Regions from separate parts of the Homo sapiens genome. Here all the other regions are linked to region 4. Evidence: fine-mapped expression QTL. A gene starts in region 4. Each other region holds a variant in brackets. All regions are shown on one strand. Distances are between the middles of the regions.

What was found. PIP is the estimated chance that this variant, and not a neighbour inherited with it, causes the effect.
Region 1: its variant is fine-mapped to the expression of MLX in monocytes after LPS (Quach 2016, PIP 0.95).
Region 2: its variant is fine-mapped to the expression of MLX in whole blood (TOPMed, PIP above 0.99).
Region 3: its variant is fine-mapped to the expression of MLX in whole blood (TOPMed, PIP 0.96).

The regions. Positions count from the first base shown.
Region 1 is chr17:43,027,049-43,032,241 of GRCh38, forward strand. RND2 (Rho family GTPase 2) reads left to right here. Exons shown (of 5, transcript NM_005440.5): 3 at 135-244; 4 at 1,013-1,147; 5 at 1,384-4,993. The coding sequence ends at 1,632. Among named protein-coding and RNA genes, the nearest start is that of RND2, 4.4 kb to the left of the region's middle. The variant C/CAA (reference allele first, on the strand shown) is at 2,856.
Region 2 is chr17:42,404,652-42,409,651 of GRCh38, forward strand. CAVIN1 (caveolae associated protein 1) reads right to left here. Exons shown (of 2, transcript NM_012232.6): 2 at 1-737. The coding sequence ends at 36. Among named protein-coding and RNA genes, the nearest start is that of CAVIN1, 16 kb to the right of the region's middle. RefSeq lists an enhancer at 1,660-1,709. The variant AC/A (reference allele first, on the strand shown) is at 1,969.
Region 3 is chr17:42,809,488-42,814,656 of GRCh38, forward strand. It overlaps CNTD1 (cyclin N-terminal domain containing 1), which reads left to right. Exons shown (of 7, transcript NM_173478.3): 7 at 1-2,100. The coding sequence ends at 48. It overlaps BECN1 (beclin 1), which reads right to left. Exons shown (of 12, transcript NM_001313998.2): 9 at 5,037-5,169; 10 at 4,461-4,521; 11 at 2,168-2,310; 12 at 647-1,441. The coding sequence ends at 1,273. Among named protein-coding and RNA genes, the nearest start is that of MIR6781, 12 kb to the right of the region's middle. The variant A/C (reference allele first, on the strand shown) is at 3,032.
Region 4 is chr17:42,564,874-42,570,031 of GRCh38, forward strand. MLX (MAX dimerization protein MLX) reads left to right here and starts at 2,227. Exons shown (of 8, transcript NM_198204.2): 1 at 2,227-2,293; 2 at 2,746-2,782; 3 at 3,597-3,686; 4 at 3,964-4,070; 5 at 4,331-4,430; 6 at 4,634-4,733; 7 at 5,109-5,158. The coding sequence starts at 2,252. COASY (Coenzyme A synthase) reads left to right here. Exons shown (of 9, transcript NM_025233.7): 4 at 1-25; 5 at 110-174; 6 at 354-438; 7 at 598-695; 8 at 786-932; 9 at 1,033-1,404. The coding sequence ends at 1,095. RefSeq lists enhancers at 479-985, 986-1,492, 1,699-1,748, 2,506-3,013, 2,889-2,978 and a silencer at 2,089-2,488.

The DNA of each region.
Region 1 (5,193 bases), 460 kb after region 4:
ATTAATGATGGGTATTAATGGTTGCTCTTTTCCATTCTCTGCTCCCAGCATCCCTTGACCAGGATCTGTAAGGTCTCCCATTCCCTTCCAGGCCTCCCATCCACTCAGGCCCCTCATGCCCTGTCTTCCTTCAGGTTCCTCTTACTATGATAATGTCCGGCCTCTGGCCTATCCTGATTCTGATGCTGTGCTCATCTGCTTCGACATTAGCCGACCAGAAACACTGGACAGTGTTCTCAAGAAGGTGGGAGCCTGGGGAAATAGGGCAGCTAGACTGAGGGGGACCAGACCACCATGGTCCTGACATAACATGGGCCAGGAGGAGGGAGTGATGGCTGGGGTATGGCCATCAGCTGGTTAGCGAGTGAAGCTCTCATCCCTGCCACCCCTGCCTCCAGCCCCCATCCCTCCCAGCCACCCCTTTCCTGAAAGTCCTCAGAGCTGGATACAGCAGCTAGGGGAGGTGGGGGAGTGAAGGGAGAAGCACTCACAGGATTCCTTCTCTGCTCTTCCAACTCCTTGGCAGTGGGAGTCCCAGATGGAGGGGATGGGATGGGAAGCCTGATCCTGGAGCTCAGGAAAGCCCTGTGGCCTCCTCTCCAGGCCCCAGTTTCCATGACAAAAGCCAGGGGTGAATGGACAGAAGTCAGCTAGGGCAGCCCCAGTTCCCAGGTGGGGGAGGGGAGGGTGGGATAAATTTGTTCCCAGGAGAGAGTATGGGAAAGGCGAGTGGGAATGGGAAGTTTCCAGGCTGGCAGACCCTTCATAGCCACTGAGGGAGAAGAGTCCACAGGCCCACGCCAGCCCTCTCCTCCCCGCTGCTTCTCTCTCACCCCATCCTGCTCTCAAACCAAGCCTAGCATTCTCACCTCCTTCCTCATGTGGGAGAGTCCTGAGGGATACATGGTTTCTGCGTGCTTGAGGAAGAGAGGGCACACTGCTGGCATGGCACAAAGGCTCACGCTGTGCCTCCCTCCACCCCTCCACAATTCTCTTTTCTTCTCCTACATAGTGGCAAGGAGAGACTCAAGAGTTCTGCCCCAATGCCAAGGTTGTGCTGGTTGGCTGTAAACTGGACATGCGGACTGACCTGGCCACACTGAGGGAGCTGTCCAAGCAGAGGCTTATCCCTGTTACACATGAGCAGGTGGGACCCTTGACGTCTGACCTCATCCCAGCCTAGACCTGTCACCTCTGCCCCTTCAGTCTCTGATTTGAAAACACCTTACCTGGCTCATCCTTTGTTCTGGTCTGTGACCTCTGACCTGATCCCTTGACTGCCCCCAGCCTTGACATTCAACCCCAGCCCACAGCCTCCATGCCCCTTTCTAAGCTGCAGGCTAAGACCTATAACTTTCTCCCATGCACTCCTTCCTTTTCCAGGGCACTGTGCTGGCCAAGCAGGTGGGGGCTGTGTCCTATGTTGAGTGCTCCTCCCGGTCCTCTGAGCGCAGCGTCAGGGATGTCTTCCATGTGGCTACAGTGGCCTCCCTTGGCCGTGGCCATAGGCAGCTGCGCCGAACTGACTCACGCCGGGGAATGCAGCGATCCGCTCAGCTGTCAGGACGGCCAGACCGGGGGAATGAGGGCGAGATACACAAGGATCGAGCCAAAAGCTGCAACCTCATGTGAGGGGCTAGGAGAGGGCAGAGTGTGAAGAGGGGTGGTGAGGGACACAATTGTTCCCCTGCCTGCGCCCAGGCTTCCTGACCTCCTGATCCTGGCTGGGAAGTTAGGGCAGGCAGAGCGAGCAATTCTGGGCAGGGGAGCTGGAGGGCAGAAGGGTATCATCGTTTCTCATCTCCTCCTCCCTCCTCTTCTCCAGTGGATGTTGAGGGAGCTAACAGGGCTGGCATCTGGGGCATGAACTGGGATGGGGCAGGTGGGCGTTAGGGAAGCTGGTATCAAATGGTGACCTTGGTGGAGTCTCCTATGTGAAGAGTACCCTCCCTCTCCACCCCCAGTCCCCATATCCTGGTTCTGGCCCAAGGAAAATGTCCATTCTATGACCTTCTCTTTTCCTCTCCTCTCACTTCTGCAGCTATTCTCACACATCTAACCTCTAGGCAACATGCACTAAATTCAAAAGCAAGGAGAAGCCCTTGCCCCCCATCAGTCCACCAGCCCTAGAACCTCCCTTGCCTCAACAGTCACCTAATAAAGCCCACCTCCATGGAAAACGGCTGTGGCTTTAGTTTTGTTGCTTTTTAAAAAAATCAATCTACCAATCTTTAGCAGTAAGAGGGAAAGTTAGACCTCAGCTGGGGAACTTTCCTGTCCATGTCCACAGATAGAGCAGAGGACAAAGCCATAGGTTGGATCAGAAGTGTCCTTTTAGGAGTCAGAGTTGGGAGAAGGAGACATCCTGGGACTGTTCATCCTAGTTAATGAAGTGGGCAATTCTCAGGCCATTAGGGGGTTTTAGAGCAGACCGACATATAATTAGTCAGCATTTCTCAGCCCAGCCAGGCCTGCTGCTAGTGTGGGAGGGGTCCTGCTCACCATCTGTACCCCTGGCTTGGAGCCTGCTGGTACCCTGGGGGTTGTGGGGATAAGGAGGCATCAGGCCGGGCGCGCTGGCTCACGCCTGTAATCCCAGCACTTTGGGAGGCCGAGGTGGGCGGATCACAAGTTCAGGAGATCGAGACCATCCTGGCTAACACGGTGAAACCCCATCTCTACTAAAAATACAAAAAATTAGCCAGGCGCGGTGGCAGTGCCTGTAGTCCCAGCTGCTCGGGAGGCTGAGGCAGGAGAATGGTGTGAACCCGGGTGAACCTGGGAGGCGGAGCTTGCAGTGAGCCGAGATTGCGCCACTGCATTCTAGCCTGGATGACAGAGCAAGACTCTGTCTC[C/CAA]AAAAAAAAAAAAAAAAAAAAAAAAGAAGGCATCAAAAGCCTCCACATCACAGAAGCTACCCCTGTACAGCGTGAAGTTTCCTAAGAGGTCAGTAGTTTGATTCTGGGGTCTCCTTAGAGGCTCAGGCCAGGGACCTTTCTCTCCTCCCATGCTGAGTTTCATGATGGCTTTCAGGGGAGCATCAGCTGTTAGAGTCACCCCTACCCTGTCCCTTAAAGGAAAGACGGTGGAGAGGACGGCTGAGCGCCTGTTGTCAGGAAAGACAGTACTGGTCTGTTTTCTCGGGAGTCTGGTTTCAGATTGTCCTGTATTCCCTTCCTGGCTCTGGTCCCACTGGCCTCTTTTCGGTGACATTCTCCCCCAGGAACCATCCCTGGCCCTTCCCTCCCCCAGCCCTAGCCAGTTCTCCCAGACACACTGGAAGAGAACACTGACCTTACCCAACTATCTGCTGGGATCCCACCCAAATTTATAGCCCATTCCTCCCTCATTCATTCATTCAGCAAGTATGTACTGAACACCAACTGTGTGGCATACACTGGCTTGGGAGATTGCAAGGACCAGTCTCTAAGCTTTTGGAGGCCAGCCCAGTGTGGAAGAGAGGTACCTCAGGTGTGAGGGTGCCATGGCTGAGGGATATTTGTACATGTATGGGATGCTATGGGAGCTCCTTGCAGCCTGAGAAGCCAGTCCTGTGAGCCAGGTCCTGAGGGTTGAAGAGGAGTTTTCCGGGCAGGGAAGGGGTAGGAAAGGCACTCTGGGCAGAGGGTACAGCATGTGTAAACACGTGGAGATGAGAATGAGCATAGCACTGTTGGGGCTCCCATGGCAGGGAGAATAGAAGACAAGGCTAGGAAGGTACACTGAGGCTACTGCAGGGTCCACAGAGGAATCAGAATTTCATTCTGAGGATGAATGAAATCATCCTCAGAGGATGAAGCCACCAGGAATTTCAGGCAGAGAGTGAAGTGATCAGAGTTGTTTTTTGGATAGATGGTTATCTGGATGTGGTGTTGGAGCTGGGAGATTTGGCTCTGAGGTGTGTCATTTAAAATAATAGCTTCTCGGCAGTGGCTCACACCTATAATCCCAGCCAAGATTCCTCCTTTGGGAGGCCAAGCTGGGAGGATCGCTTGAGGCCAGGAGTTAGAGACTGCAGTGAGCTATGATCATGCCATTGTCTTCCAGCCTGAGTGTCAGAGTGAGACCCTGTCTCTAAAAAAAATTAAAAAATAAAAAATAAAAAATAGCTTCTCCTTTCCCTTATGCCAGGTTCCAGTCTTGAGAGGAAAGGAATCCCTACCCACCACTCCCTGGATCATCAGATATCCCTATCCCAACCTCTCCTATGGGACTAGTTCATCTCAGCCAGTCTCAAAGATTCTAGGATAACTTCAATGGCATTTGAAATTATCTAAGTGTGCTTGGATAACCACCCCCTCAAACTGAGACCTGGTTAGGGACTGACTCAAAGACCCTGAGTCCTCGGCTAAGGGTACAGGAGAGGGCAGGGGCTCCAGGCCCAGCTAGGTGGATCTCCATCTGTCTCTGAGGACTGACCCTTTCCCCACAAGGACCTGCCATAAAAATCGACTTGCGATTTTTAGCTGAGTGGCTTCTCTTTTCCACTTTGGACTTCTCAGTGTATAGCAGGTTCAAGCCTGCAACCACCAAAGTGCAGAGTGTGGAGTGTTTGTGCCCCCTCTTTCCTCCAACCTCCATATCCTGCCATGTGAGCTCAGGGAATGCAAATGCATTTAAATATCCATCTAAAGCAAACATAATTAGAAAAATCAATCAGCTGGAGGACCCCCCAAAGTTTAATACATTTTCAATACCACCAGGAATGGATTTTTGGTCCCTTTCTGCAGGTCTGGGTTGCCAGACGTTTTATTTCTGGGGAGGAGGGCTCTGGGCTGAGGAGCTCAGTGGGTGGGAGGAGGGAATGGGACTGTTGCTGATCCTCAAAGGCCTCTGTAGGATGGAGGGAGGGGACCTTACTCCCTTCCCCACCCCAGATGCAGGAGTCACCCAGCTTCCTTCTCTGCGCTGTTTCCTTCACAAATTAGACATTGGTTTGGGAAACAATGTAGCCTCGTTAAACATTTAATGAAATAAACAAATAATCACACTGTGATGGCTGCCAGAGTTTCTGTGTTTTTTTTTTTTTTTTTTTTTTTTTTTTGAGACGGAGTTTCACTCTGTCATTCAGGCTGGAGTGCAGTGGCACCATCTCGGCTCACTGCAACCTCTGCCTCCTGGGTTCAAGCGATTCTCCTGCCTCAGTCTCCTGAGTAGCTGGGACTACAGGCGCGCGCCACCATGCACAGCTAATTT
Region 2 (5,000 bases), 160 kb before region 4:
GAGCGAGGAATGGGGTGGGTGGCAGCGGGGGCGGCTCAGTCGCTGTCGCTCTTGTCCACCAGCACGGCGTCCGACTCCTCGGTGATCTCCAGCAGCGCGTGCACGTCGGGGCTGCTCCCGCGCCGCAGGTCGCCGGCCTCCCCGCGCTCCGCGCCGCCCTCGTCGTCGTCGGCGCCCACCTCCACCATCTCGGTGGCCTTGAGCACTTCCACCTGGCCCTCGCGGATCTTCTTGACGTGGAAGGTGAAGGGTGGCACCTTGTAGACCGCGGTCTTGGAGCGCGCGTACACCACGTGGTCGGGCGTGAAGGATTTGCGCAACTTGTCCCGCGACGTCTTCAGTTTCTCGCGCCGCTCGGCGGGCACCAGGCGCGTGCCCAGCTTGTTCATGCGCTTCTCCAGGGTGTGCCGCGTCTTCTCCAGGTTTTCCTTGGTCTTGAGGCGCGTCTTCTCCAGGTTCTCGCGGGTACGCACCTTGGTCTTCTCCATCTTCTCCTTGGAGAAGGCCTTCTTGAAGTCGTCCACGCGCCGCAGGCCGCTGCGCTTGATACGCTCTGCGCGGGACTCCTCAATAACCTCCTCAACCTCCACCGCCTCGTCCGACGAAAGCTCCAGCGCCGCTGCGTCCTCCTCGGGCCGCTCGCCCTCGCCCAGCTCCTCGCCCTCCTTCTCTGGCAGCGCCTCCGACTCTTTCAGCGATTTGCTGATGCTCAGTTTGGCCGGCAGCTTCACTTCATCCTAAGGGAAGAGGAGAAGGGACATGAGAGGCGTCGGAGGAGGCGGATGTGGGCGAGCCTGAGTCAGGGTGGTGACGATCCTGGAGAGAGGGGAGCATGGGACGCTCGTGGTCCCCAGGAAACTGGCGGGCGCTCAATAAATGTGTGTAGGCTCACGCCTGTAATATTAGCGCTGTGGGAGACCGAGGCAGGAGGATGGCTTGAGTCCAGGAGTTCGAGACCAGCCTGGGCAACATATCACCCATCTCCGGCCCCCCAACCCCGCGTCGCCATTCTTTCTCTCTCTCTCTCCTTGTTTTTTTTTTTTTTTTTTTTTTTAAACGGAGTCTCGATCTGTTGCCGAGGCTGGAGTGCAGTGGGCGCGATCTTGGCTCACCGCAACCTCCGCCACCCGGGTTCAAGCAATTCTCCTGCCTCAGCCTCCCGAATAGCTGGGATTACAGGCGCCCGCCACCACGCCGGCTAAATTTTGTATCTTTAATAGAGACGGTGTTTCTCCATATTGGTCAGGCTGGTCTCGAACTCCCGACCTCAGGTGATCCGCCCGCCTCGGCCTCCCAAAGTTCTGGGATTACAGGCGTGAGCCACTGCGCCCGGCCTCGCGCCGCCATTCTCTAAAAAACATGTGTGTTGAACGAATGGTGACTAAACAGACCGCGGGAGCAGGGGACCAAACTTCGGGTCGGAGATGGGGTTGCGTAATAATTGCACTTGGGCTAAAATCTCTGTGGTCGTCCAACCCTGTCCTGATCCCTTTCCACCCGTAGATGATATTAAACCACTACGGCCCTCGGGAGACACAGCTCCACTTTGGAAATGGGCGGAGCGCCCTCTGGTGCCGCAAATCGCACACTGCCCGAGCCAGGCCGAAAAGCAAGTGGTGGGAGTGTCTAAGTTGAAAGCGGGTAGGGGTTTGAGCCCACAGCTGCACCTACCCACCCAAGCAGGTAAAGTAAAGGAAGTGCATTTCCTAGACTCAAGCTATTTCTTTTTTTTTTTTTTTTTGAGATGGAGTCTCGCTTTGTCGCCCAGGCTGCAGTGCAGTGACACGATCTCTGCTGACTGCAACCTCTGCCTCCCAGGTTCAAGCAATTCTCCTGCCTCAGCCTCCTGAGTAGCTGGGACTGCAGGCATGCGCCACCACACCTGGCTAATTTTTTTGTATTTTTAGTAGACTCGGGGTTTCACCATGTTGGTCAGATTGGTCTCGAACCCCTGACCTCAAATGATCC[AC/A]CCGCCTTGGCCTCCCAAAGTGCTGGGATTACAGGCATAAGCCACTGCTCCTGGCCTCAAGCTATTTCAGAACCAGCCTTAGAGATGGAGAACTGTGGTCCACCCTCCCCCACCTCCACCTTCTTTGACTCCTTCATACTGTTTGGCTCCACCAGTGGTCATTCTCCCCCTCCCCCACATTTAGAAATTGATATTGGAAAGAGGAAGAAGCTGGCTGGGAGCCACGGACATGTTTTCTCCCCAGTCTGGACATTTCTTCTGGTTGTGACTTCCCTACTTTGGGATAGAAGAGAGATTACTTTTCAATTCTTGCTTTCCCTACCCCCTGCCCCCAGCACAAAGCCTGAGCTCAGGGGTCTAGGAGTAGGATGGGTGGTCTCAGATTCCCCATGACCCTGGAGCTCAGAACCAGTTCTTTGCTTTTCTGTCTTCTCCTTGGAGGACTTAGCACCAGAACTGCTTTCCATTCCGGGAAGATTTTCCAAGATCTTGACTCTGGCCAACATTTCAGAATCTCTGGATCACTCCCTCCCCCACCTCCACCCTCATCAGAGAGCAGGGGAGGCTGAGCACAGAAAGGGAAAGGGCAGACCAAGATCATCAATAGGATCTCTTTGGCCCAGACTCCCTTTAGTGACTTCAAATGAAGGAACGAGAGATAGTCGCTTTTCTAAAGGGTTTTCTGAAGACCATTTCCCAGAATTATAAGAAAAATCCTGTCCCCTAAGAAATTAAGGCAACATAAACTGAGTCCTCTCACTGACACCACACACACACACCCCTATACATAGGCTGCTCGGTATCTCTGCACCACCTGCTACAGAAATTCCTTCCCCAGCCCCCAACCTCTTTCCTCTTCCCTCCCATCAACATCCCCCCAGAGTTTCCTGGTTTACACTGAAAACTAGGAACACCCTCTCCCAACTTCCTTCCCTTCTTGTCAATAGCATTAGCAGGGACAAAGAGGGAATGCTGGCTCCACCTCTTCTCTCATCTGGGCATCAGCTCTGCTGGGCACCAAGCCACCTCCAGCTCTCTGTTACCCAACTACACCTCCCAGCAGGCAAGGTGACCTGGGCACAGGGCATGCTGGGACTTGTAGTCTCTACCTGCCATAGACGGCTTAGTGCAGATCATGGGCAATCCTAGGGCATTTTGTTTATCCCTCTGCCTCTTATCATTCACTGAGGCATTGAAGGGTGTTTTCCTTGTTCTGAGTGTAGGAGAGTCTCAACTTCTCTTTGCATTCCCTCTGATTTCCAGTCATTCACTTTGGGGCTCCTACAATCACCCTTACCCTGCCTGCTACTGGAGTGCATATCATTTAAGACTTATACATCATTGTAGGATCTAAACCCTCTTCATCCATCTCCACCCAGAATTTACCTGCAGCCCCAGTATATATATATATTAAAAAAAATTCAGCTCTGATCTTTCCTTCATAACCTCCCAGACTTAAAAACCCACCCACGCCCCACCAAAGGGTGGAGAGAGCCCCTCCTTTCACTAAACTCAGACAATGTGAATAGGCTAGGGAGGGATTAAGGGTGACAGGCAGGGAATAGTCAGGAAACAGCCCCAGCTGCTGGAAAACAAATCCACTTTGTCTCTCTGCCCTACCCCCAGCATCCCCCGCTTCTCCCCTACCCCTGCTGCCTGCTCCACCCCACCCCTAAAGGCTGAGCTGGCTGGTTTTCCTGGCCTGTGGCTTCCTAGATAAAGGTCTTTGCCAGCTGAACTTGGAAGTGAATGGGACTGGGGAGAGAGCTGCAGACTTCTTATAGCCAATGCCATCTTCCTAGTGCCTCATGAAAGGTCTCAAACTACAACATAAGGAAGCAATCCTAGTGAGAGGAGGTTTTTGTTTTTTAGTTTTTTTGTTTTTTTTGAGATGGAGTTTTGCTCTTGCTCCCCAGGCTGGAGTGCAATGACACGATCTCGGCTCACCGCAACATCCGCCTCCTAGGTTCAAGCAATTCTCCTGCCTGGGCCTCCCAAATAGCTGAGATTACAGGCATGTGCCACCACACCTGGCTAATTTTGTATTTTTAGTAGAGACGGGGTTTCTCCATGTTGATCAGGCTGGTCTTGAACTCCCAACCTCATGTGATTCGCCCTCCTCAGCCTCCCAAAGTGCTGGGATTACAAGCCTAAGCCACCGTGCCCGGCCTTTTTTTTTTTTTTTTTTGAGACATGGTCTCACTCTGTCACCTAGGTTGGAGTGCAGTGGCGCGATCTCGGCTCACTGCAACCTCTGCCTCCTGGGTTCAAGCAGTTCTCCTGCCTCAGCCTCCCAAGTAGCTGGGATTACAGGCATGCACCACCACACCTGGCTAGTTTTTGTATTTTTTGGTAGAGACAGGGTTTCACCATGTTGGCCAGGCTGTTCTCAAACTCCTGACCTCAAGGGATCCTCCCACCTCGGCCTCCCAAAGTGCTGGGATTACAGGCACGAGCCACCGCATCTGGCCATTTTTGTGTTTTTGTTTGTTTGTTTTGAGATGGGGTCTTGTTCTGTCAACCAGGCTGAAGTGCAGTGGCATGATTACAGGTCACTACAGCCTCAACCTCCTGGGCTCTAGTGATCCTCCCACCTCAGCCTCCCAAGTAGCTGGAACTACAGGCGCACGCCACCATGCCCAGCTAATTTTTGTAGTTTTTGTACAGGCAGAGTCTCACTATGTTGCCCAGGCTGGTCTCAAACTCCTGGGCTCAAGTGATCCCCTTGCCTCGGCCTCCCAAAGTGCTGAGATTTCTCGCATGAGCCACTGTGCCTGGCCAAGGGGAGGTTTATTCCTGGATTTAGAAATCTCTCCAGACCAGTAAGGGATCTGGGGGCTCTAACCCCATTCATCGTAGGCTTCCCCTGGAGTGACGGCTTACACCATAGGAGCTGCCTTCTTGGTGGAAGGTCAGGGGACAGGAGACGAAACAACTTGAGCTGAATCCTGGGATGATGTCCAATAGGCTGGCTCTGGAGAGGGTATTTCACCATTAGCTTTTCCTCTCCACTCCAGGCCAGGTTTCCCCC
Region 3 (5,169 bases), 240 kb after region 4:
CACCTGGCAGCCAGAGCTCTGAAGACTGTTGCTTCCTCTAACACATGAGGGAGGCTGAATCCACCAAATATAAACAGCCATCCGTCACTGCACTCATGCCTCCCTCTGTTTACTTTCATACTAAGGGTACAAAAATTCCAAGTCTCTTTTGAACTGTATTTTGTATGCCAATTTCATGCTTATTTTTCCTTTATCAGAGAGAGTTAAGGTGGACGAGCATGCCCTTTTTGTCATATCAGCCTGAAAATGTTAAAAAGCTAGGTGGAGACAGATTAGTTGTTTCATTTTTGTTTAACAAGGTATTTATACTTTTAGCTTAATTTCATTAAGAGGAACATCAGGCATTGCAATCAGTATTAATCAGGGGCTCAAATACAGACTATCTGGGTGACCTTGACTAAGCATCAAGGAGGTAGCCTTTATTTCCCCTTAAAATTAGTTTAACATCTCTGTTCCATTATTCAGATCTACACAAACAAGGCTTCCTCAACAGCTATCTATTTTTACTAGAGTCTTTTTTTAAAACTAAAACTAACTCTAAAGAAGTTTCAACAGAATTTCCACATACCTGCATTCATTAGAACTTGATTCTCCCAGAATACAAAGTACTCTATTTTAAAGAAAAACCCAACAGTGCACCCCTGGGCAGTTTTCAGACTGCAGCAAATCTTTTATTACAAATAATTAAATCTCTCCATAATGTCTCAAACAGTATCAAACACCATTTCATATCTCTAACACAGAGCAGAGTCGGCATTCAGTATAAGAACCAAGTGAAAAGTGTTAAATTTCAAGCATCTGATCACATCACATGGTGACCAGGTAAAGCTTAGATGTCATTTTCCCACATTATCCAACTGTGCATCTCAAACATATCCTCATCTCAGTAAAGACAAAAGTTTCTATTTCATATTGTTAAGTGCAGGAAGTTGAGAGAGATAAAAATCCAGTGAAAACACATCAATCTCAATTCAACTCAGTTAAAAAAAAGAAAAGCAAATTTAAATTAGTTTTTTTCAGAGAAGAAAGGGAAAGGAGTCCATGGGGTTAAGAATCAAAACTGACCAGGGCTGGCAACTATAGATGGCATGTTGTAGCTCTGGAAAGTATCTGTCACATGATATTTTAAAATAAAGTGGCTTTTGTGGATTTTTTCTTTTTTGGTATTGTAAACATGTACTGTTTAATATTACCCGAATTTAATTTAAAACATGTTTGCAAACAAAACAAAATTAAAAGCCTTTAAGGCAAACCTCCCCCTAAGGAAAAAAGTCATTTGTTATAAAATTGTGAGGACACCCAAGCAAGACCCCACTTAAGATTCGTCAGCATGAACTTGAGAGCTTTTGTCCACTGCTCCTCAGAGTTAAACTGGGTTTTGATGGAATAGGAGCCGCCACTGCCTCCTGTGTCTTCAATCTTGCCTTTCTCCACATCCATCCTGCAGATGGACAGAGCAAAACTCATTAGTAACTGAGATCTGAGTTAAGTAAGTTCGGGGCAGGGACTTGATCATGGGACCATTCACGTCATTTTATCTATTAAAGAACACTTGGTGAGGAATGATAGTGTATTTTGGATTTGCTTGAAAGCCAAAAATCAAGAAGACTGTCACAAGAGCCTCATTGTCATTGCAGAGTACAGGGACAGGACACACACCCAAAGAGAAGAGAAGCCTGGAGTAGGGGTGAGTGAGGGTTACAGTACTTCTTGCTGTTTTCCTAGGCATCCCTGAACTTGGCGGGGGAGAAAGGAGGCAGAAGAAAAGAAATGCTTTGTTTTGGGGTGATAGAAGCAGCCTTACTCTAAGTAAAAACTAGAGTTTCCATCCATCAATGGGATCCTAGAAAAATCAAAAGAAGCATTCCTGTGTATTTCCAAGGGCTTCAGGGAAAAACCTTCTTGAAACTGGAGAGGAGGCTTGAGCTCTATGCCAAGAAAACCCCCTAAACCATCTAAGGCAACATTCTTCTACTCCAAGGACTAGGTGGTCACATTCTGTCCTGCTTGCAGTACTGGGTCAGTCTCTGCCCATCAATGTCATGTGATTCTGTGCCATTTTTTTGCTTTCCCACCATTTATACTGTTTTGCCTCCATTATTACTGCTGCTTCAATTCTGTTCAATTTGGTCCTATACAAGTTCACTCAGCATTGCGCTATACTGACCTGTAGGGAAGACAAAAACGTGTCTCGCCTTTCTCAACCTCTTCTTTGAACTGCTGCACACAGTCCAGGAAAGCCACCATTGCATGGTCAAACTTGTTGTCCCAGAAAAACCGCAACCCCCCAGAACAGTATAACGGCAGCTCCTGCCCAAGAAGAGAAAACTGGCTATGGATCTGGCACCAAGAAAGGCTTCCAGAGATTGTTCCCAATCCTATCAATCTCTCAAGTCATGTTCTGTCTGTATCCCACTGGAAACTTGTATTGTAGCTGGACTCTATCTTCCATAGATTTGAACAACTACAATAAGCTTGGGCAAGTAACAATGCACTTAGAACTGTTTCACTATCAATGAAAATGTACCATAGGTTGAGCATCCTTAATCCAAAAATCCAAATTGCTACAAAACCTTTCCAGGAAGAGTACATGGGAAAAGAAAAATAAATAAATAGACCAGGAGCAGTGGCTCACGCCTGTAATCCCAGCACTTTGGGAGGCCAAGGTGGGCAGATCACCTGAGGTTGGGAGTTTGAGACTAGCCTGACCAACATGGAGAAACCCCGTCTCTACTAAAAATACCTAATTAGCCGGGCGTGGTGGTGCATGCCTGTAATCCCAGATACTCAGGAGGCTGAGGCAGGGGAATTGCTTGAACCCGGGAGGCGGAGGTTGCAGTAAGCCGAGATCATGCCATTGCACTTCAGCCTGGGCAACAAGAGCGAAACTCCATTTCAAAAAAAAAAAAAACCCACAAAAAGAAAAGAAAAAAAAATAAAAATATGCCAGGCACAGTGGCTCACGTCTGTAATCCCAGCACTTTGGGAGGCCAAGGCGGGTGGATCATGAGGTCAGGAGATCAAGACCATC[A/C]TGGATAACATGGTGAAACCCCGTCACTACCAAAAATACAAAAAATTAGCCAGGCATTGTGGTGGGCGCCTGTAATCCCAGCTACTCGGGAGGAGAGGAGGCTGAGGCAGGAGAACTGCGTGAACCTGGGAGGCAGAGCCTGCAATGAGCCGAGATCACGCCACTGCACTCCAGCCTGGGTGACAGAGTGAGACTCCGTCTCAAAATAAATAAATAAATAAAAATAATAAAAAATGCTACAAAACCTGAAACTTTTTGACCATTGATATGATGCCACAAGGGGAAAATTCCATACCTGATACCTTTGCTTTTTTTTTTTTTTTTTTTTTTTTTTGAGACAGAGGCTTGCTTTGTCGCCCAGGCTGGAGTGCAGTGGCGCAATCTCGGCTTACTGTAAGCTCTGCCTCCCAGGTTCACGCCATTCTCCTGCCACTGCCTCCCGAGTAGCTGGGACCACAGGCACCTGCCACCACGCCCAGCTGATTTTTTTTTTTTTTTTGTATTTTTAGTAGAGACGGGGTTTCACTGTGTTAGCCAGGATGGTCTCAATCTCCTGACCTTGTGATCCACCCGCCTTGGCCTCCCAAAGTGCTGGGATTACAGGCGTGAGCCACTGCACCCGGCCCTTTGCTTTCTGATGATTCAATGTATACAAGCTTTGTTTCATGCACAAAATTATTTAAAATATTGTATGAAATTACCTCAGACTACATGTATCAGGTATATATAAAACAGGCCAGGCACGGTGGCTCATGCCTGTAATCCTAGAACTTTGGGAGGCTGAGGCGGGTGGATCACCTGAGGTCAGGAGTTCGAGACCAGCCTGGTCCAACATGGTAAAACCCCATCTCTACTAAAAATACAAAAATTAGCTGGGCCTGGTGGTGGGCACCTGTAATCCCAGCTACTCCAGAGGCTGAGGCAGGAGACTCACTTGAACCTGGGAGGCGGAGGTTGCAGTGAGCCGAGATCGTGCCACTGCACTCCAGTCTGGGCAACAGAGCAAGACTCTGTCTCAGAAGAAGAAACATAAATGAATTTTGTGTTTAGACTTGGGTCCCATTCCCAAGATATCTTAGTATCTATATGCCAATATCCCAAAATCTGAAAAAAAAAATCCAAAATCTAAAACACTTCTGGTGATACTCAACCTGTAAACATCTATCTCACGGTGATTCTTTTCCTAGCCTAGTGCACACACCCTCTTCTGACCTGCCCATATCCCTTCTCAACAGACTGTCAAAACCTGATTTCTGTCTACAAGACCCCCAAAACTAAACCTGAACTAGACAAGATATTGAACAATATACTGGCTCTTCATATCTAGGTCTAAAAAATAAATTGAATGCCAATATCAAAGCAAACCATCCATTTTCTTAAGAGATATAAGAACTCTGTATTCCAGTGAAAATGGAGCTTCACAGAGTACCTTAGATTTGTCTGTCAGAGACTCCAGATATGAATGGTTTCCGTAAGGAACAAGTCGGTATCTAAAATAGAGATACAAACAGAGATGGATACAGGACTCCTCCCAAAGTGATTATTGGGAAGTTACAACCCAATGATTTCACTCTTCATTCTGGCCAAGGGCTTCTTTTATTATGCTCAACTCCCTCTCCCACCTCCCCATTGAATCCATGTTTAAAAGATTTTGTTTAATGAACAAACTACATTTATTATATAATTGCCTGGGGGCCTTCCATGAACAAATGTTATGTTTTGGTTTAAATTTAAGAAACAAAAACTGAAAATATCCTGAGGAACACTAAGGCTCTGGGGACTGTAGGCTGGGAACTATGCTATAGTCACGCAACTCAGTGACTGTGTGATCAGTGGAGAGAGCCCTGTGATGAGGGGAAAATCAGATGCTGACAGCTCTTCAGCCACAGAAAACTCCCAGTCTGTGGGCAGCAAGGGCTCCTGACATGGTGGACAGCAGTACCAGGTTGGAGATACAAATTATATCAATGCACATCACTCCCCAAGAAAGGGCTACACTTCCTACCTCTGAAATTTCAGACCCATCTTATTGGCCAGAGCATGGAGCAGCAACACAGTCTGGCCCCAAGCAGCATTAATCTCATTCCATTCCACGGGAACACTGGGCAGGCGACCCAGCCTGAAGTTATTGATTGTGC
Region 4 (5,158 bases):
CCTGTGGTGGAGGCCTTTGGAACAGGTAATAACTGGGGAAGGCTGAAAGTGGCCTGGAGTGAGGAGCTAGCCAGGCCTCTGTGCTCAGTTGTCTGTCTGTGTTGTCCAGATATTCTCCATAAAGATGGCATCATCAACAGGAAGGTCCTAGGCAGCCGGGTGTTTGGGAATAAGGTAAACAATAACTTCCTAAGGGCTCCTAAGCCGCTACTAGACCCAGGGGTCAGGGTCCAGTGGACCTCTCTGGTCTGGCCCAGAATGCCATTTCCATTGATCTGTTCCCAACACCACCTTGCTCGGGCTGGCTGCCTCTTCTAGAGAAGGTAACCTCTGCCCTCTGTTCCCCTCCCCAGAAGCAGCTGAAGATACTCACGGACATTATGTGGCCAATTATCGCAAAGCTGGCCCGAGAGGAGATGGATCGGGCTGTGGCTGAGGGTGAGTGGGAGGGAGGATGGCAACAGCTAAGGGGACAGTTAAGCTGTTTCTTCCCCTGGGAGCTTCCCTGCCCAACGTGGGACTGTCTGTTCACCCTGGGACTGTGTTCTGCCTGGGAGAACGTCGGCACTGCTGGCGGTGACTGGGGTCTCCCCACAGGAAAGCGTGTGTGTGTGATTGATGCCGCTGTGTTGCTTGAAGCCGGCTGGCAGAACCTGGTCCATGAGGTGTGGACTGCTGTCATCCCAGAGACTGAGGTATCTCGCCCCACCCCCCACACCATCCCTACTGCAGATCCTATCCTGTGAGCTGGAATTCTTCCTGACAAATGTCTCGTCTGTGCTCAGGCTGTAAGACGCATTGTGGAGAGGGATGGCCTCAGTGAAGCCGCGGCTCAAAGCCGGCTGCAGAGCCAGATGAGCGGGCAGCAGCTTGTGGAACAGAGCCACGTGGTGCTCAGCACCTTGTGGGAGCCGCATATCACCCAACGCCAGGTTGGTGCCCAGGGCAAGGCCGGGTTGTGGGGAAGGAGTCTCCAGTGGGTACTGCCTGACCCTGCCCTCTCTTCCTCCCAACATCCTGGCCTGTCTGAAGGTGGAGAAAGCCTGGGCCCTCTTGCAGAAGCGCATTCCCAAGACTCATCAGGCCCTCGACTGAAAAGTTCTCAGTGGGGCCAGACTGGCTCCTGGAGCTGACAAGCGACCCCGTGGTGAGGAGAAATGGGGGCCTTGATGCTCACCCTGGTTCAGGCCCAGAGGTCCAAGCTATACTGTGCAGGACATGGCCAGGCCTGGTGGACACAGGAAGCCTACCCAACACGCTGGTATTTGGCCAACACTGAGGATGTGGTTCATGGGGGAGCAGTCCCCTCCCCACTCTTGCCCATGGGTGACTCTTACCCACAGCTGACTAGGGCCAGCGCAAATACTGGAACCTGTAACAGAATTAAAGGTGAATGTTCTGAGATGTTGCTTGTATGGTGTCTGCTTCCTGTTCCAATGCCCCTAAGTATCTTTGGGATCCTTAAGCCACAAGTGCAGGGCCCAGGCCTGAGCTGGAAGCCTGGGCAATGCAGTGGTTAAGAGAATGGCCTTTGAGGCTAGCCAGAGGCGAGCTTTGGCCCTCCCACTGACCAGCTGTGTTCTTCTGAGTAAGGTGTAGACTTTCTAGGTACTGCCGTGTTTTATTGTTTTTGTTTTGTTTTTAATATGAGAGGCCGCATAACCTAGCTAGCAGGTTCTTTGCAAGGGTTCATTCCACATGCATCCTGCCAGACACTGGGCTGGGTGTTGGAAGATCAGCCTTCCGCGCGCCAGGCGGGGCCTCTGCCCTCACAGAGCTTGCAGCCTGGTGGGGTCGGACGATGTGGCTGGGGGCTTCTCTGCCCGGTTCCTGACACACCGGCCAGCAGTGCAGGTCCGGTGAGCGCGGGGAGGCCGCCCTCAGGGTAACGTGGGGAGCCGGCCGGCCGGACAGTGCGCGTGCACACACTATCTGCGGCGGTGTGCTGACAAGCCAATTGAGGGGACTCCATCTTACAAAACGCGCTTCATGTCGCCGCCATTCCACTGCCTAACCCGGGGAGGGCAGGCACGGCGGGGAGCAGTCTCGAAGGAGGCTGGCGCCAGGCCAAGCGCCGGGCCTTGACGGCTGGAACCGTGGAGTAAAGTCTTTGGGCTGCGCATGCGCGATGCTTCGCCCTGCCCCACCTCTCGGTCGCGGATTGGCGGGCGCGGGTCACGTGGGCACGCCACCCGCTTCCTCGCCGCAGGGGGCCCGCCCGCTGGCCCGTTTCCGGTCCGGTGGGTACAAGATGACGGAGCCGGGCGCCTCTCCCGAGGACCCTTGGGTCAAGGCAAGCCCCGTGGGCGCGCACGCCGGCGAGGGGAGGGCGGGTCGGGCTCGTGCACGTAGGGGGGCCGGAAGACGAGGGGCTTCCCTCCTGTCCCCAAAGTCCCCCACGCTCTCCGTGCCCCGGGGCTGCAGAGAAGACAGCTCTCACCCCGCGTGTGCCAAGGTGGGGAGACAAACGAGGCGTGTGCGCGCGAGTCGGGGGAACGGGGCACTGGGGTGGAGTAGGGGCGGAAGGGATCATACACAGGGGAGGCACTCGCACGCCCTAGCCTGTGCCAGTCTCGGGGGACTCATTAAGCTGCCCGCGCACCCCGGGCTGTGTGTGTGCAAGCGCGCAGGGTGACAGAGGCGCCTTCCCGGAATGGGGGGCGCGCTGTGCGTGCCTGCAGTGGAAGGGGCGCCTCCCCCTAGGGGCGGAGGTCTGACGGGCCCTTCCCGTGCTCTGTGCCGCAGGTGGAGTATGCCTACAGCGACAACAGCCTGGACCCCGGTGAGTAGCTGCCCCATCTTAAGCTCTAGAGGGACACTCCCGCCCAGGCTCTCTAGATTCTTGTGGCGTTGCCAACCACGCCTGAGCACAGTCCACTCTCCCTGAGCAGAGTTCCTGGCTTGAGACAGCAGGAGCTGAAGGACAAGGGCAGAAAACAACTGAGGGTGACACCTAGTTCCCTCTGCTCTGGAACAGGGAAGTGGTGGAACTGATCACTCACCACTCAGTGGAGCAGCTGATCACTCACACCCTCATCACGTCCACATGCCCGTTTGTGAGCCAGGGGGGTATCATGCAGGCCTATGGAGCAGTGTAGACACTAGGGAGCAGAGCACTGCAGCGTGGTCTGGCAGGAAGTGGGGGGCCCAGTATGGTTGGCTTTGGGTTGAAGGGAAGAGGTCAGCATTTAAGAAAGCCATTGTGTGGCCGGGCGCGGTGGCTCACCCCTGTAATCCCAGCACTTTGGGAGGCCGAGGCAGGCGGATCACGAGGTCAGGAGACCGAGACCATCCTGGCTAACACGGTGAAACCCCGTCTCCACTAAAAAATACAAAAAAATTAGCCGGGCGTGGTGGCGGGCGCCTGTAGTCCCAGCTACTCGGGAGGCTGAGGCAGGAGAATGGCGTGAACCTGGGAGGCGGAGCTTGCAGTGAGCCGAGATCGCGCCACTGCACTCTAGCCTGGGCGACTGAGCGAGACTCTGTCTAAAAAAAAAATAAATAAATAAAAGAAAGCCATTGTGTCCTACAGGTGTCTGAGGGTCTGGCAATGTTCCCCACCCCACCCCTTAGTGATTGGGGCCTCTCTTTTCCAGGGCTTTTTGTAGAAAGCACCCGCAAGGGGAGTGTAGTGTCCAGAGCTAATAGCATCGGTTCCACCAGTGCCTCTTCTGTCCCCAACACAGGTAGGCAGTAACATCCCCCCCGACCTCGGGGGGCTCAGATATGTCATAATTGTAGTACCTTTCCTAGACAGGGAAGCCCCAGCCATCCACACAGGGGTGCTGGAGCCAAAGTATCAGACACAAGGTCTCACCATCTTTCACCTCATCTGGAACATTAGGTGGTTCTGTCCATCTGCCTTCTCTGGACACCAGGTTCTTCCCAGCTGGGGAAAGGTGGGCTAGCTGGACCCCACTGGGCCCCAAGATGACCTTTCCCTGCCCCCATCTCTGAGCGTAGATGATGAGGACAGTGATTACCACCAGGAGGCCTACAAGGAGTCCTACAAAGACCGGCGGCGGCGCGCACACACTCAGGCTGAGCAGAAGAGGAGGGACGCCATCAAGGTGAACAGGGAGGCCTGTGCCTCAGCCAGTGCGGGAGGGCCCTGCATAGTTTAGCTTCCCTGTGCCCTGACCCACTCAGACAGTCCCAGGCACCCTAGGGGGTGGGCAGGTAGTATAGTCCCAGGCACAAACACCTCCCTTGCAGCCTTCCCACCCCATTGAGTTTGTGAGCATAGAACTTGGTGTCATGGAGGAACTTTGTGCCATTTTGCTTTAATCTCTCAGGGTTAAAGAACCCATTTCCCCTGCTGTTTCCACAGAGAGGCTATGATGACCTTCAGACCATCGTCCCCACTTGCCAGCAGCAGGACTTCTCCATTGGCTCCCAAAAGCTCAGCAAAGCCATCGTTCTACAAAAGAGTATGGCTAGGGAAAGCACTGGAGGGGATGGAGCCAAGCGGGGCTGTGAAGAGGCCAGTGCCTCCTACCCACCCATGGCTCGGCCTTGGTGTGGTGATTGCCATGGGATAGTTGGGGTCTGGGGTAAGGGGAACAAAGTCAGCCTTATCTTCTTGGTTGAGAATACTTCTGTACCTGTCCTTTTTTTCTTGCCCCCACCCTAGCCATTGACTACATTCAGTTTTTGCACAAGGAGAAGAAAAAGCAGGAGGAGGAGGTGTCCACGTTACGCAAGGATGTCACCGCCCTAAAGATCATGAAAGTGTAAGAGGGGTGCTGAATGGGGGGAACCAGAACTTCTGAGGCAACTTCATTGCACACCCTCCCTTGTTCAAAGGCCACATCAGTTACTGCTGTACAGATAATACTCTTAGTTCCTGAGCTAGCCAGTAGGACTGTGTATCCCCAACTGTCCTTACACATGGCAGACACTCAGGAAATGCCTGTTGGATTAATGTAAGGAAGGTTGGAGAGAGAGGGCCACCTTTCCTGACCTGGAAGCAGTATCTCCCTGATACTGAACCCCACCCAGAAGCTCTCTGGGGCTGCCATTCCTGGGAGTACACAGGATAGTCCCGTCATTCTTCTTGGGTGGGCGGAGCTGCTGCAGCACCTCAGCCCTGGCCTGCATGCTTTTAGGAACTATGAGCAGATTGTGAAGGCACACCAGGACAACCCCCATGAAGGGG